Regions from separate parts of the Homo sapiens genome. Here region 1 is linked to region 2. The links come from fine-mapping of genetic effects on plasma protein levels. A gene starts in region 2. The other region holds a variant in brackets. All regions are shown on one strand. Distances are between the middles of the regions. Region 1 overlaps CCL17 (C-C motif chemokine ligand 17). Region 2 holds the start of CX3CL1 (C-X3-C motif chemokine ligand 1).

Region 1 (8,000 bases), 36 kb after region 2:
GGGCAAAGTTTCAGACTTGGGGGCAGATGGGGAGATGGGAAACAATGCTGGCTTGAACAGAAAAAAAGGAGGCTGGTGTGAGAGGGAACTCGGTTTTGCCCTTCTGGTACCTGGGGCTGAGTGAACCATAGCAGGACAGACTTCTGCTTCCCAGCAGCTCACAGGTTAGTGTGGGGGACAGAACTGCACAGAGCTGGCCAGGCTGCAAGGCAGAGAGAGCTGAGGGGTGCCACAGAAAGATGGGCCGGAAGGAGGAGTGTCCAGGTGGGTGTGTCTGATTAGTTACTGGTCAGGGCTGGAGACAGAGATTTAAGAAGTATTTATCAGGCCAGGTGCGGTGGCTCACGCCTGTAATCCCAGCACTTTGGGAGGCCGAGGCAGGTGGATCACGAGATCAGGAGATCGAGACCATCCTGGCTAACACGGTGAAACCCCGTCTCTACTAAAAATACAAAAAAAAAAAAAAATTAGCCGGGCATGGTGGCGGGCGCCTGTAGTCCCAGCTACTTGGGAGGCTGAGGCAGGAGAATGGCGTGAACCCGGGAGGTGGAGCTTGCAGTAAGCCGAGATAGCGCTGCTGCAGTCCAGCCTGGGCGAAAGAGCAAGACTCCGTCTCAAAAAAAAAAAAGAAGTCTTTATCCAGAGGTAAAAGATCTGGGGTAGATGATGTCAGGGAGGAAGGGAAGGTTGCTTGAGGCAAAAACAAAGTCTAGGACAGAAGCCCAGGCTTGCTCCTGCCACCAGCTAGCTCTGTGCCCATGAAGCAGATTTATTTTGTTGTTGTTGAAATGGAATCTTGCTCTTTTGCCCAGGCTGGAGCGCAGTGCCACAGTCATGGCTCAGTCGTGCACCACCATGATTGGCTAATTTTCATTTTATTTTTTTTGTAGAGACAGAGTCTCACTATGTTGCCCAGGCTGGTCTCAGACTCCTGGGCTCAAGCGATCTTCCCACCTCAGCCTCCCAAAGTGCTGGGATTACAGTGGACCAGTTGCTTAAACTACTCTGGTCAGTTCCTAATTTTCTCATCTGTAGAAACTAATAGTTCTTACTCCCTGAAGCTGTTGTGAGGACAAAGTAAACTAATAGACTTAACTGCTGAGATTCCCCTGCCCCAACACCCACCCCAGCCTATAGTGAGAGCTCAGGGACATTTCTGAGAAGAGGAGCTCACAGGGAGCTCAGGGAAGAACCATGTCCCAAATCCCAGTGGGAGGAGCATCAAGAAGGATGGTAGGTTCCCAGGGATGACAAGGCGATTCCCTGAGCCAGCTGGAGACTAGGAACTTTATAGACTTCATCTCAGTTAGTTTTCCAGGTCATACCATGAGGGAGTGTCTTATCATCACACCCATTTCACAGATGAGAAAACTGAAGTTCATAAAATCGCTGTTAGTCACACAACCAGGAACAAGTAGAAGAGTGACTGGGACTCAGGGCTGTAGGTAATGATTCCAGAGCCTCTGCTGGTAATCACTGCCCAATGTAAGGCAGTGGGAGGTTCAGGGAGTGGCTGGAGGGGATCAAGAGGCTCAGTGAGAGCACCTTTCCTAGAGCATCAGAGCTGGAAGCCACATTGCTGAGGATTAATTAAATCACAAGTGGGCAGAGAGGAAATGGTAGAGGGAAGTACAGACCACACATCGGAGCAGTTTGGTCATGAATGAAAGGAGAAATGGGAGGGCAGCATGCGAGGGTGTTGAAGTCAAGGGGAGGTCTTTATGGAAGTGGAGAGACAGGATCATGTTGTCAGCAGAGGGAAAGGGGGTCATGGGATTGGAGACAGTAAAGAGCTAGAAGATGGCAGTGCAACTGAGGGAAGGAGGCCCCTCTGGGATGAATAAAGGTTGAGATCCAAGCCACAGTTGAAGCAATATAGGTTTGGCAAAAAATGGCCACAACCACAAGGAAGTTGTAAACTAGATGGGGGAGGAGTCAGGGTGTCCTTGGTTAGATTCCTCTGCTTTATCCATGACAGAAGGATTCGGGTGTGTCTCATGAAATGATGGTACACACTGGTTTAAAAACTATTTGGATGAAGGAGGCCCTGGGATAGAATGTGAGTTGGGCCCATGTTGTAGTTCAGAATCTCTAAGTGACCATCCATCTATCCATGCATTCATGCATGTATATATCCATTCATCATCTATCAAGCCATGCACCCATACTTCTATTCATCCATCCAACCACACATCCATCTATCTAGCCATACATCTACACATACACCCACCCATCCATCAGTCCATCCATCTGCTCACCCATCCAGTTTCATGCATCCATCCATCATCCATCAACCCATTCATCCATCCTTCCATCCATCCATCATCCATCCATCCATCCATCCACCCATTCATTCATCCATTCATGTATCCATCCATTCATCCATCCGTCTGTCCATCCATTCATTCATTCATCTACCCATCCATCCATTTATTCTTTTACCATCCATCTACACATCCATCTACCCATCCGTTCATCCATTCATCTACCCATCCATCTATCTATTTATTCTCTCACCATCCGTCCACACATCCATCTACCATCCATCCATCTATCCATCCATTCTTCCATCCATCCCTCCATCCATCCATCTACCCATCCATCCATCTATTTATTCTTTTGCCATCCATCCACACATCCATCTACCATCCATCCATCTACCCATCCATTTATCCATTCATCTACCCATCCATCTATCCATCCATTCATCTACCCATCCATCTATCTATTTATCCTTTCACCATCCATCCACCAATCCATCTATCCATCATCCATACACACATCCACCCATCCATTTATCTACCATCCATCCATCCGTCCATTCTTTCATCCACCTTCCAGCCACTCATCCATTCATCACTCACCCACACGTCCATCCATCATCCATCCTCCATCCATCCATTCACTCATTTACCCATCCATATCCATTCACCCATTCATTCATTCACCCATCCATACAACCACTCACCTATTTATACATTCAGTAAACATATATATATTTTTTGAGACAGGGTCTCACTCTGTCGCCCAGGCTGGAGTGCAGTGGTACAATCATGGCTCACTGCAGCCTCAACTTTCCTGATGTAGGTGATCCTCCCTACTCGGCCTCCAGAGTAGCTGGGACAGGTGCACACTGTAACACCTGGCTATTTTTTTTTTTCGAGATGGAGTCTCACTATATTGCCCAGGAGGGAGTGCAGTGGTGTGATCTCGGCTCACTGCAATCTCCACCTCCCGGGTTCAAGCGATTCTCCTGCCTCAGCCTCCCGAGCAGCTGGGATTACAGGCACACGCCACCACACCCAGCTAATTTTTTTTTTTTGTATTTTTAGTAGAGACAGGGTTTCACCATGTTGGCCAGGATGGTCTCGATCTCCTGACCTTGTGATCCGCCTGCCTCAGCCTCCCAAAGTGCTGGGATTACAGATGTGAGCCACTGCGCCTGGTCATTTTTTTGCATTTTTTGTAGAGACAGGGTTTCACCATGTTGCCCAGGCTTGTCTTGAACTCCTGGGCTCAAGTGATCCACCTGCCTCTGCCTCCGAAAGTATTGGAATTACAGGTGTGAGCCACCAAACTGGCCTAATAAACATATTTTATTGAGCACCCACTAAGGTGCTAAGTCCTGGAGGGATAAGTTGGAACACAAAAGAGATCCTTCAAGGATTTTACAGTCTTTTGTGTGAGTCCCAACAAATAAACTAGCAATCACAATACAATATGAAGACAGCCAAGATGAGGGAAGTCAGTGAACTCTGGGGACATAGAGGAAGGAAGGAGTAAGGGTTCAAGCTGCACTCTAAAATAAGAGTAGGAGTGAAAGGAAGTGAGACGGGGGAACAGGAAAGAATGTTCCAGACAGGAAGAACAGCTTGTACGAAGGCTTGGGCATCAGTAAAGGCCCGGCATTTTCAAGGAACTGAAAGAAGGTCCATGTGGCTGGGACAAAATGATATAGTGGGTGATGGAGCTGGAGGAAAAAGTTGAGCCTGGAGAAGTAGGCAGAAATGTGGGCTTCGTCCTGAGAGTAACGGGGAGGCATTGAAGGATTTCAAGAGGGGAGAGCCTTGCTCAGACTTGTGTTTTGGAGATCAATGGGCTTTTGAGAGGAAGATGGACTGGACCAGGAAGGCCTGGAAGCTGGGGCATGAGTTCACGGCTGTGGTCCAGCAGAGAGATGGAGGAGGAGAAGGAGACGGATTCAGGACGCATGCAGGTAGCCAACTAACACACTTCGCTGATGGACTGGATGTGGGCAGTGAGGAAGAGCCCAGGGACAGAGATGACCCTTGGGTTTCTGACCTGAGGAACCAAGAGGACACCCTGTCAGGAACGACAGACACAT[C/T]AATGGGCACGTCAAGTCTTTGGGACAGGGGATTGGGGCCTATTTTGGGGTCAGGGGTGGAAATACTATTTGGGACCCTCACATCTCAGCTGAGCTGGCCCCGATCCCTGATTCCCAGCCCCCTGGGCAGGGCAGGATGAATCCAGTTTCAGCTGTCAGCGATGGAGATGAGTAAACAAATGCTCAATCCTTACTGAGCTGCTCCGGGAGACCTCGGGCAAGTCACTGCCCTGATGAGCCTCAGGTGACACTGGTGTGACCGGGATGACACTTCTGCCTAGCTGCCCCCTCCTGGTCAGCCACAGCTGTCAAATGCAACTGAAGATGATGAAGAGCTGCCGCCCCAGCCGCTTGGCTGCCCTGTGACTGAGAGCATCCTGGTTCCGCCCACTGCCTCGGGGACAGGCTTCTCCACGAGCCTGGGCAGAGCCTGGGGTTGGGGCAGGAACCTTCCTTCCCTGTCTTTCAGGGAGAAGGACCCCATATCTGCCTGGCCCAGTGCCCTCTGGCTAAAGCCGAGTTGGGTGTTGCAGCAGCCCCTGGGGCAAGGGCGGCAGGTGCCTGGGTGGTGTGCCTGGCCACTTTAGTCAGAGGCGTTGAGACAAGGAGTTACCACAGCCGCTCCTCCCACTCAGATCCAATTACCCTTCACACTCTCCTAATAGGCCTAACAGTGTCTGGCCTGCTTCCCTGCCATGGCCCTTTCCCTTCCTTTGGCCACAGCACTCTCTCCCCTGCTGCCCCTCCACAAAGCTCTGCCTCACTGCCACTTCCTCCAGGGAGCATTCCTGATTGCCCTGACAGACCTCCAGGTCCTAGAATCCTCACAGCAGCATAAAGATCTCTCAAGATGCTTCTCACAGGCCCAGACTTCAGAATAGTTTGTCTGGAAGTTCCCTTGGCATCCATCCCATAGCCTGGGAGAACTGAGGAGGGATAAACTCGGTTAATCCCTGGAGAGGAAACCACCTCAAAAATGTCCCTGGTCCCCGCTGCCTCCCAAAGAAGACTGAGGCACACTGGGCCCTTTGCATCCATCTCGCCTTCCCTTCCTTCAGTCCTGTGTTTACTCGGTCAGGTGACACTGAAGGTTCACTGCATGCCAGGCACCATGCTTGGTGCTGGGGATGCCCACGGCGCGGGGCAAGGTAGACACAGCCAGTCCTCGTGTGACTGGCTCTTAGCCTTGCATTTAGGCAGTGCCCCATGCCGGGGTTTCATGCTGTTGCCCTAATTTATCTCTGCACATTCCCCTCTCTGCACCTTTGCCTAAACAGTGCCCCCTGTGCAATGTCCTTTCTTCCAATCTCAGTATGAATCTTATCTACAAAACCTAGCCCTAGGCCCTACAGCCACCTCTTTCAGGCAGCCTTCCACGAATTCTGGCCAGAGGCAGCATCTCCCCAGTCTATGCCCCAAAGCCCTTTAATCTCACCTGCATGTCCCTATGAGGGGTCAGGGCCTGTTCCCCCGCCCTTACCCACTGTGAAACCCCACAACAGCAGGGTCGGGCCTCTGTCCGCCCTGCAGCCCTGGGCACAGCCCCCAGAGGCTCAGCTGCCCCTGCCAGCCAGGCAGCCTGCACCAGCCTTGAACTGAACCAGAACCTTCCTAGTCCAGAACCTTCCACTGCTGCTTTCATGATTTGTTCCCCAGAACAAACAGGGGAATTTGGGTCCTTCTGAAGAAAGCTTTGAGTCTGCAGGAAAGCGAAGAGGACTCAGAACCCACCGGGGAGTTTCCCCAGTGGCCGGGACTGCAGCTGCTTCATCATTAATCAGGCTGCTCACTTGTTATTAATCAGCTGTCCCTTGCAGTTGTGTAGCACAGAAGAGCAATTGGTGGCCTCTGCGGCAAGTGGAGCCCCCACAAGAGGGCAGGCAGAAGCCACAGGGCAGAGTGCATGGAGGGCAGCTAGGGAGGGAGGGGTGGTCGGCGGAGGCGCCCCTTCCTGCCTCTTCCGAGGACCCAGGCCTGGTCCTGCACCTCTGGGCTCAGGCTCTGTCTCCAGGTCAGGGCTGCCCTGTGCCTGCACACCTTCCCCTGCCCAGCGCGGCCTCCTTTGCAGGGGGACTCTGCGGGGAGCTACTCTGAGGCTGCCCCTCCCTTTCTCTGGGATGTTGGCACCAAAGAGGTGCCCAGGCAGGAAGAGCAGCCTCCCCTCCCCCTCCTCTGCACGTGCAAATGGAAGACAGCCCTGGGCACAGGAGGGGTGGCTGGGGGCAAAGAACCCATCTGGACTGTGGCTTGAGGAGGGGGCAGGGTCAGGGTCTCTGGCAGCTGATGGGACCCCCAGAGAAGCAGAGGAATGTTGGTGCGAGGCCCACCAAGGGGGACCCCATCTTCCTGAGATCTACCGTTTTGGCAGAGCTCTGTGGGACAGACCAAACTTCCCTCTACAGGTGATGAGATTGAGGTCCAGAGAGGGTCTGTGAGCCGCCGGAGGTCATATAGAGGATGCTGCCCACAGAAAGATTCTGCCATGGGCAGGGAAGCCCCACTCCCAGGTGCGGAAGCAGCCACAGGCTCCCAGGCAGCCCTTGCTGAGGGGTGGGGAGAGGAGCGCCTGAGGCTCCTCCGAAGTCGAGGGTCTTTGTCTGGTTTCCTCTCATAGGATCCCTGCCCTTCTACCTAAGGACTGATGAGGTTAGCTCTGAGCGATGCTCCAGTAGTGTGGGGTTTCCACAGGTATCCCCAGAATCTAAAAACAAGAAACAAAAATCTCATGACAAATAGCGGCTGTTGCAGTTATCATGACAGTTAGTGAAAAACTTAGTAATGATTTAGTGATTAACACAGGGTGGACTGTGAGAGGGTGGAAGCCACCTGCGCCATGTTTTGGAGGGGCAGTGCTGTCATTTTGAGTTGGCCCTGGTCATGCAAGGACAGGATGAAGCCAGGCCAAGGTCCCCCATGTCACAATCAGAGTCCAGGTGCTGCCCTGCCTGGAGCTGCCCTTCCCTGGTGCTGCCCACCTGAAGGCCATGGGACTCTCATCCTACTGTAGGGACGCCCATGCTGTGGCTCCCGGGAGCCCCAACAGGGCGACCGGCAATTTCCTCGGGTGGCCAGGGGACTGACCCGCATGCAGTGATGCTGTGGCCTGGGGCTGAGACGCTAGAGTCACAGAGAAGCCAGTTCACCAACTTTATCAACCTCATTATTGCAATTCTTGTTTTATTCCTGCCCCCACTGGAAAGTGGACTTACGTTCTGTCATCTGCCATGCCATGAGCTGGGGTGCCTGGAAAGTCAGCTCAGGGCCTGGCTCAGGCTGGACCCTGACCAGGCGTCCAGTACTGACTCCGGGACACAGCTCTGCTAGAAGTGAGAAGCAGCATCTCCCACTGACCCCTTCGTTTTGTTCTGTATCTTAGTGTAAGGCATCCCATTTAGGGGAACGTGGTTTCCTGAGCTATTTGGACTGAATCGAAGCACCGTTGGGCTCTTGCCTCCTGTGGTCAGGGCCTCACCTGGGATGGGACACCAACCAAAGCTGCTCTGTGCCCTGGCTGGGCCTCAGCCTCTCGGAGGCAGATAAAGCATGGATCTCCCTGCAGAGTGATGCCCATGTGCCCATGCCCGGCAGCCAGGGTGGCCCTGGCAGCACCCTGAAGCTCACTCATGGTCCAGGAGCCCATGGGCCCATGCCCGGC
Region 2 (8,784 bases):
TACAAAAAAAAAAAAAAATTAACTGGGTGTGGCGGCGTGCGCCTGTAGTCCCAGCTATATTTGGGAGGCTGAGGCAGGAGAATGGCGTGAACCCAGGAGGCAGAGCTTGCAGTGAGCCGGGACGGCGCCACTGCACTCCAGCCTGGGTGACAGAGCGAGATTCCGTCTCAAAAAATAAAATAAAATAAAATAAAATAAAAATAAATGAATAAAATAAAAAAGAAAGGGAGTGAGGGAGAGAAGAAAGGAGGCAGGAAGAAGGAAAGAGGGAGAGAGGAGAAACCACAAAATACATTTTGGGGACAATTGGAGAAATTTGGGTATGAACTGGGTGTTAGATGACATACAGGAATTATTGTTAATTTTGTTAGATGGGATAATGATATTACATGTATGTAAGACAATAGCTTTATTCTAAGGAGATGCATGCTGGAATATTTAGGGGAAAAGTGTCAAGCATCTATAATTTACTTTGTAATGGTTTGGCTAAAAAATAAAAATAAAAAAGATAAAACAAATATTAAAAAATGCTAATCATTGGTGGTAGAGGTTTTGTTTGTTTGTTTGTTTGTTTGTTTGAGGCAGAGTTTCTCTCTTGTTGCCCAGGCTGGAGTGCAGTGGTGCAATCTCGGCTCACCGCAACCTCTGCCTCCCGAGTTCAAGCAATTCTCTCCCAGCCTCCCAAGTAGCTGAGATTACAGGCACCCGCCACCACACTCAGCTAATTTTTTGTATTTTTAGTAGAGACGGGGTTTCACCATGTTGGCCAGGCTGGTCTCCAACTCCTGAGCTCTGGTGATCCACCCACCTCGGCCTCCCAAAGTGCTGGGATTATAGGCGTGAGCCACTGCGCCCAGCCATTGGTGGAGATTTGAAAGTCTTTGTACGATTCTTTCTTTTGTATTGTTGAATATTTTCCAAAACAGAAATTTTAAAGAGACAAAGCAAAATTCTGCCCATCTTCAGATGGAAAGATCATCTCTCTCACCCACCTTTCTTGTTTCCCCAACAAGCATGCAGTTCTCCCTTCCTGCCCGAGCCCACAGCCTCTAGCCCTCTGGTAGGGCTGGCAACTTCTCTCTCCTACTGAGCTACAGCTCCTGGGGGCAAGGACTTCAGCTCACTTGCCTTTGTGTCCCCCATCCCACCACATTGCCTGGCACACACCGGGCTCAATAACAGATACTAATGCCTCCTGCGTGCCAGGCACTGTGAAAGTCCTTAGTTTTATTCACTGTCGTGGTGGCTTGATGAGGTGGCTGTTTGCATCCCATTTTACATATAGGGAAGCTGAAATGCAGAGAGAGGTTAAGTCACTTGCCCAAGGGAACACCCCTTATCCGTGGTGGAGTCCTGCTGATGTATTTATTTATTTTTTTTCAGATAGGGTCCCACTCTGTGCCCAAGCTGGAGTGCAGTGGCATGATCATGGCTCAATGCAGCCTCAACCTCCCCAGGCTCACTTGATCCTTCCACTTTAGCCTCCTGAGCAGCTGGGACTGCAGGCACAGGCCACCACACTAATTTTCGTATATTTTTTGTAGGGAGGGGGTTTCACCATGTTTGTAGAGAGGGGGTTTTGCCAGGCTGGTCTCAGATTCCCGGGAATCTGCCTCTGCCTCCTGCCTCGGCCTCCCAAAGTGCTGGGATTACAGGTGTGAGCCACCACATCCGGCCTGGAGTCCTGTTTAGCCTTGGGTCTGGCTAGCCTGAAAGCCTGGTTATTGTGTCCAAATTAAATCTAAATTCAGTTCTTAACATCCTAATGAGATAGATGGGGGTGATCATTCCCATTTTATGGGAGTAGAAGCTGGACCTGGGGAGGGTAGAGGGTGTCCAAAGGGTCAAATGAGGAAAAGCAGAGCCGTGCTTTGCATTTTCGCTTCTATTTTATGCCAGGCTCTGTCCCGTACCCTATGGACATAAACTCACTTAGTCTTCACATTGGTCCTCGCAGTGAGGGTGGAGGCAGGTGGTGGACCCTACTGGTCTTGAGCTCAGACCTCAGAGCCAGCTGGCTGGGACGAATCCAGGATCCCTCATTTCCTGGCTGGTGAACCTAAGAAAATGTCTTTTTTTTTTTTTTTTTTTAGACAGAGTCTCACTCTGTCACCCAGGCTAGAGTGCAGTGGCGTGATCTTGGCTCACTGCAACCCTCTGCCTCCCAGGTTCAAGCGATTCTCCTGCCTCAGCCTCCCAAGTAGCTGGGATTACAGGTGTGCACCACACCCAGCTAATTTTTGTATTTTTAGTAGAGACGAGGTTTCACCGTGTTGGCCAGGCTGGCCTCGAACTCCTGACCTCAGGTGATCCACCCACCTCAGCCTCCCAAAGTGCTGGGATTACAGGCGTGAGCCATCGCACTCGGCCTCCTCCTCTGTTCTTACATGAACAGAGCAGAAAGAACACGACCTCAGTTTTTATCCCTCCTTGTCCCTCTCTGGGCCTCAGTTTCACCAGTTATAAAAAGAGGGATTGGACATTGGGAATGAGAAGGCTACTAGCTTCCCATGTGCACAGGCCAGGACAGATTCTCTGAGCATGAGTGGACCTTGGCTCCTGCCAAGGGTGTTCCGCTACTTCAAGAAGTATCTAGCCTCCTAACCCCTAACCCCATGCACCAGGCAGCCCATTGGGTTGGGTGGGGGGGCGGGGGGGGGTGGTTGAGGAGAGAGAGGTCCCTGGCCTTGGGATCTGTGGCCCCTCTGCCCAGCCCAACTGGCTCATAGCGTGGGATGCTGGCTCCACAACTGGTTTCCCTCAGATTGGCAGCCTGGAGACACCAGTACAGCTCAGTCCTATACCAAGGCAGAGCTGCTGACTCTTCTGGAGTCTCAGGGATTGTTGCCACTGCCTTTAGGGAAGGCTGCCATGAAGGCAGACTGTGTTCTAATGTGCTCCCAAGGCTGGCAAGCCTCTGCACCCTTCGGTGAGAGCCTGTTGGAGGGCCGGTGCTGGGAAGCCCTCTCCCCATTGCACTAGCCCAATGCTCTCTTTGGGCAGATAGAGAACTCAGGCCCCACGAGAGGCAAGCCTTATCCAAGCCACGGCTACAGAGTTGAGGAGCCAAGAGCCACAGAGTTATCGGGGATGGGTTGGCAGCCACCTTGTTCTTTGGGCTAACAGGGGCCAGAGCAGAGGTGGGAGTGGGTGCAAAGCAGGGAGCGGGAGACCGGGAGGTGGAGGCAGGGAGGCCAGGGCTCTCTCCTGGGTCCTGAGCTGTCCACATTCTGCTCATCATGGTGGTGGGAGGGGAGTTCTCCACTCTGATGCTGTGGATAACCTGGGGTGGCTCCGGGCCTCAGTTTCCCCATCTATCCATATGAAGTTGGACTCAATCCTTCTTTCAGCAGACCCTGCACCAAGCCCCTGCTGACTTCAGGCTCCCTGCTGGGCTCTGGAGATGCATAGATCAACAAGGTCCCCCAGGAGCTTGGGATTCTAAGAGGGGAAATTTAGGGGTCCATCCTGATGTGGGCGAGGCATTCTCTGGATCAAAGAAGAGCTTGTCAGACCCAGGATGGAGGGGCCCTGAGTCTCTCCCGGCCCCTTGGCGCCCCGCTCTCTATTCCACGGCCTGCTGGCCTTTTGTGTGTTGCCCACTTAGGATCAAGGGCCCCAGGCCAGATCCTAGGGCATGTTCCCAGCTTGTGGCAGGAGAGGAGGCCTTTGTACCCAGGCAGGCCCAGTCCAGCCTCCCGGGGAAGGTCCCAGTATGACAAGCCTAGGATGGTGAGAAGCCCAGGGACACAAAGCCGGCTTGGTTCCTTGGCAACATCCTGAGGAATCCAGCGGCTGCACACTGGCTCCCTTCCTCTCCCCTCCCACCCTCCTGCCTGCGGGGGCTGGAGGCGGAGGCAGCCAACCCCATTATAAAAAGCCACAGATCTCTGGCGGCGGCAAGGGGACAGCACTGAGCTCTGCCGCCTGGCTCTAGCCGCCTGCCTGGCCCCCGCCGGGACTCTTGCCCACCCTCAGCCATGGCTCCGATATCTCTGTCGTGGCTGCTCCGCTTGGCCACCTTCTGCCATCTGACTGTCCTGCTGGCTGGTAAGTGGGGCTTGACTTGGGCACAAACAGGGTAGGGAGCCCCCAGCCCCTTGTCTATCCCTCAAGCCTGACATCAGGGGCCCCAGACCCTGCCTGGGTAAAGCTCAAGGCCGGTGGCAGCCGCTTCCCCAGGGATGTGCGAGAGGGGGCTGGGCACCTCGCTTCCCCCAGATGCAGCGCTGGACAGATTTCCAGTTGCCAGCGACCGCCCTGCCTGGCCCAGCGAGCAAAGTGGCTGTGCCTGGAAGCACAGAGAGGTGGTGTGGGTGGCATAAGGGAGCCAGGTGTGGGTGTGCCAGGAGGGCGGGGGTGGAGAGAGCCTGCAGAAGCTCCTGCTGGGCACTGGGGTGGGAGGCCCTGGCTGACAGTGGCTGGCTCTTTCCATCAAGCGTTAATGTGTAACCCGCAGCCCTGGCCCTGGGCCAGGCCACAGTTGGGACTTTCTCCTGTCCTGTTTTCAAAGCCCCCAGGATTAGGGGGCCCAGGACCAGTGAAGGTCAAGGTCACTGCAGCTCATGGTTGGGGCTTGCCACTGCTGTGCTAGTCTATAGCCCCAGTTGCTCTGCCTGTGTCTACCCGTCATGCTGTCTTCCTCCTCCAAGCACAGTGTAGAAAATGCTTTTGCCTCTAGTCACTTGCTTACTGAAGCCCAGGACCTGGTAGGGGTACATAATTAACCATCCTACCTGATATGGATAAGATGGAGGCCCAGAGAGGTTTAGAAACTGGCCTGACAATGCACAGCCAGCAAGTAGGGCAGGAGAAGGTAAGACACATGGGACTGAATGCAGGAGAGAGCACAGATGCACACTCACCACCTCTGTGGGCCACATCACCTCCATGAACCGCTAGCCAGCCCCCTCCTCAGGGAGTGCCCCCACCATCTGGCAGGGTGACCTTCAGAGAAGGTGGGCACACAGCAAGTCTGGGAGAATGAGAAGTAGTCCCCACTGTCCAGATATTTCCATGGAGCAAACTCACCCTGGGGCAGGGAGCAGGTGTGTGGGTGGGTGGGCACGTGAGAGTGGTGGAGGCAAATTCCTGCTGGCTTCCTGCTGTCTGGGCTGGGGCCCTGAAGCCTGAGGTGTCTGCGGACAGTGAGATCTGGAAAGCAGGGAGTCAGATGGCGGCTGCTTTGCCACAGTCCTGTTATGTGACCGTGAGCAGGGTCTTGCCTCCTCTGGTCCCAGTTGCTGCATCTTTAAATATAGCTATTACCTCTCCGGTGGATTGGGGGAGGGTGACGAGGTTCCAATGCCTATGGAGGTGTTTTGAAGAGGGCGGAGGAGGAGGATTACTTTTACTAAGCTGAGAGAGGGAAGGGTCCTAGGCTAGGATGGAAAGGGGACACTGGGGGACCCTGGGTGCTCAGACTAGCAGCCTGAGGCTTTAGAACCAGGCTTCTGCCCTCATCTTGGTCATTGGCTTTACTGGAAGATCCTGGGCATTATTGGAACCTTTCTCAGCCTCACTTTCTCCTCCTGTAAAACTAGGCATTTGACCAGGCTCACCTTGGAAGTCCTCTCCCACGCTGACATGTATGGCTCTGAGAGGCCCTCGGGAGCCCCTGTAGGACAAGGGGGTGGTTTGGAAGCCAGAGAGACCCCGAGAGGAGGCTGGGGGGTTCGTAGCTGCTGCCCTGACTAGTGTGGGGCAGCTGCGTCAGTCCCCAAATGTGGGTTTGTGGGGCTGTGTCAGGCAGGAGGCTTCTGTACTTTATATAACAAACCTGCAGCTACGAGTCAGTGCAGAGCATTGCCCCCCCACTCCAAGAGCTGACGCATTCACTCCCACTCAAGTCCTGGCAAGAAAGAGAAAAAAAAACGAATCTGTTTTAAGCTCCTATAGCCTACCCGCCTCATTAGCAGTGGGGGTGGATGGGGAGGGCATGGGAGGATAAATTCAAGAGTGTCAGATCCAGGCCCCTGTCTAATTTAAATAAAAATTCCTCCATTTTTCTGTTGGTTAAGGTATTATGCCACAAAGCGCTTCCTTAGGCATTTTGTCCATTCATTCAACAAATAGTTATTGGACACCTACTGTGTGACAAACCTGGTTCTAGGTACTGGGGCGGCATCAATAAATAAAACAGCCAAGGACCTCAGCCCTCGAGGTGCTGTAATTCAACTGCAGAGGACACATAACACACAAAGTAAATCAGTAAACAATGTGGTCTGTTGGAAGGAGAAAAGGCACTGTGATAAAAAAATAGAGAGGGGTGGCTGGGCGCAGGGGCTCATGCCTGTAATCCCAGCACATTGGGAGGCCAAGGCGGGCAGATCACCTGACGTCAGGAGTTCAAGACCAGCCTGGCCAACATCATGAAACCCTGTCTCTACTAAAAATATAAAATTAGCTGGGTGTGGTGGTGCATGCCTGTAGTCCCAGCTACTTGGGAGGCTGAGGCAAGAGAATCGCTTGAACCTGGGAGGCAGAGGTTGGAGTGAGCCGAGATCGTGTCACTGCACTCCAGCCTGGGTGACAGAGTGAGAGTCCATTTAAAAAAAAAAAAAAGAAAGAAAAGAAAAGAAAAAGAAAAATAGAGAGGGGAGAAGAGAGGTGTTGACATTTTAAATAGGGGGTTAGGGAAGCCCACTGAGTAGGTGGCTTTGCACAGTTTGGAGCGGGGTGAGGGCGGGAGCCATGTGGATATCTCTAGAGCAATGGTCCTCAGTGAGTAATTTTGCTCCCCTATGGGCCATTTGGCAATTTCTAGAGAAATTTTTTACTTGTTACAAATATCCCAATGTTTTTGGTTCAGTTGAGCTACTCGCCTCTAGTGTGTAGAGGCCAGAGATGCTGCCAAACCTCCTATAGTACCCGGGACAGCCCCCAAAACAAAGAATTGTCTGGTCCAAAATGTCAGTAGTGTCACTGTTGAGAAACCTTGCCCTAAGGGAAAAATGCTCCAGAAGTTAAAAAATTCTTATTCTCACAACCACACTGTGAAGCAGGTATTGTCACATCCATTTTACAAGTAAGGAAACTGAGGCTCAGGGAGTCCGAGTGACTTGCTCAGGACACACAGCTGGGCAATGGCTCAAGCCCTCCCTTTATCACCTCATCCAGCAACCCAGGACATTTCCTGAGTCTCCTTCTAAGACCCTGGAAGACTCTTAGAAGTCCTTGAGGTCCAGCCTAAAGGAGAATTCCTCCAAGAAGCCTCCCCTGACCATTTGAAGTTGGAAGTGGTCTCTCCCTCATGTAAACCCCAATATGTTTGTGGTATGTTCTGGAACACTGTGTTTCTACCTGGCATCTAGGGTAGCCTAGAACAGTGGGGTGTTTAGGGGCTGAGTAGAAAACTAGCTCTGCCACCATGCAGCTGTGTGGCACTGGGCACATTTAGCCTCTCTTATTTCCAGCTTCTGCATCTGTAAAGTTGGGATAATACTCCCTTTGCAGGAATGTTGGGAATTAAAGAGAGCAGATGTGTACATGCTGGACACAGGGTCCAATACACAGTAGGTGTTCAATTAAAAAAAATAAATAAAACCTCTGATACTTTGTGTGCCTAATTTACCTGTCCATCAGGCTGGGAGCCTTCTGAGGCCAGAGGCATTCCTTGTTCATCTCACTGTACCTCACAGCACCCAGCACAGGGCCTGGCAAGAGGAACCAGCATTTGTTGGTTGACTGAATAAACAGAGTGATCTGATGGCATTTATTGGGATGGAAGCACTCTCTTCAAACTCAGCACCAGTGCCTATGGGAGAAAGAGCTCAAGGTTAAGGATAAGAGGGCCTGAGATTTTTGTATATACTCAAAAGTAATTCCAGCCAGTGTTGGCTGAATCAGGAAGTGGATGGATGGATGGATGGATGGATGGATGGATGGATGGATGGATGGATGGGTGGATAGATGGATGAATGGATGGATGGATGGATGGGTGGATGGATGGACAGATGGATGGATGGAAGAAGGGATGGGGAGGGGATGATGAGGGATGGATGAGTAGGTGAGATAAAAGGGGGCGGAAGATTGACAGGTGGTAGGTAGGGGAGAGGGAGTGGGTAGATGGATGAATGGAGATGAATAGGGGTTGGGCAGGAGGTGGCAGGTGGGCGAGGAATGGGTAGAAGATTGATAAGAGTGGGTGGACGGGTGGATGGATAGGTAGATAGATGCATTAAAGAGAGATAAGTAAACTGAGACTAATTTCATTCAATGAATATTGATTGAGTATCCACCTTGTGCTTGATGCTGGGAAACTATGATACCAAGACAGACAAGGTCCCTGCCTTCCTGACACTCCTATGACAGATAATATATGACTGGCTGGATGAGGCATTGTCTCCATTTACAGAAAGGAAAATTTCAGCTCTGAGAAGGGACAGGCTCCCCAGGTCAGTTAAACAATCTTCCTGGCAGAACCAAGAACTGAGCCGGGCCAGGACCATTCAGGGACCGTGGCAGAGGGTGGGGACTTTGGAGACAGGATGACTCTGTGGCTCTTTAAAGCCCTGGAGGTGGGCAATGGCTTTTCCCATCTTGGATTTGGGGAGCACAGAATGGACCTTCTTTCCTATCCATTGGGCAGCCTCCCTTGCCTCCTCCTGTCTCTGGTCACTCAGGGGCACCGTATTTTCTGGGGCTTCCCAAAGAAGACACCTGCAGGCCATTTTAGGGGACTGCCACCTGGCTCCACTCAATAGGGCCTGGGGAGGCTGCAGGTGAGTCAGTCTGAGGTTCCATTGCAGAAGGAGGGTGGCCAGCCCACACAGTGACTTTTAT

The links. PIP is the chance, under the fine-mapping model, that this variant and not a neighbour inherited with it causes the effect. Sun 2018 read protein levels with aptamers (SomaScan).
Region 1: its variant is fine-mapped to the plasma level of the CX3CL1 protein (Sun 2018, PIP 0.95).

What each region holds. Positions count from the first base shown.
Region 1 is chr16:57,405,426-57,413,425 of GRCh38, forward strand. The region is part of intron 1 of CCL17 (C-C motif chemokine ligand 17); the gene reads left to right. Among named protein-coding and RNA genes, the nearest start is that of CCL17, 4.7 kb to the left of the region's middle. The variant C/T (reference allele first, on the strand shown) is at 4,346.
Region 2 is chr16:57,368,589-57,377,372 of GRCh38, forward strand. It overlaps CX3CL1 (C-X3-C motif chemokine ligand 1), which reads left to right and starts at 3,902. Exons shown (of 3, transcript NM_002996.6): 1 at 3,902-4,050. The coding sequence starts at 3,981.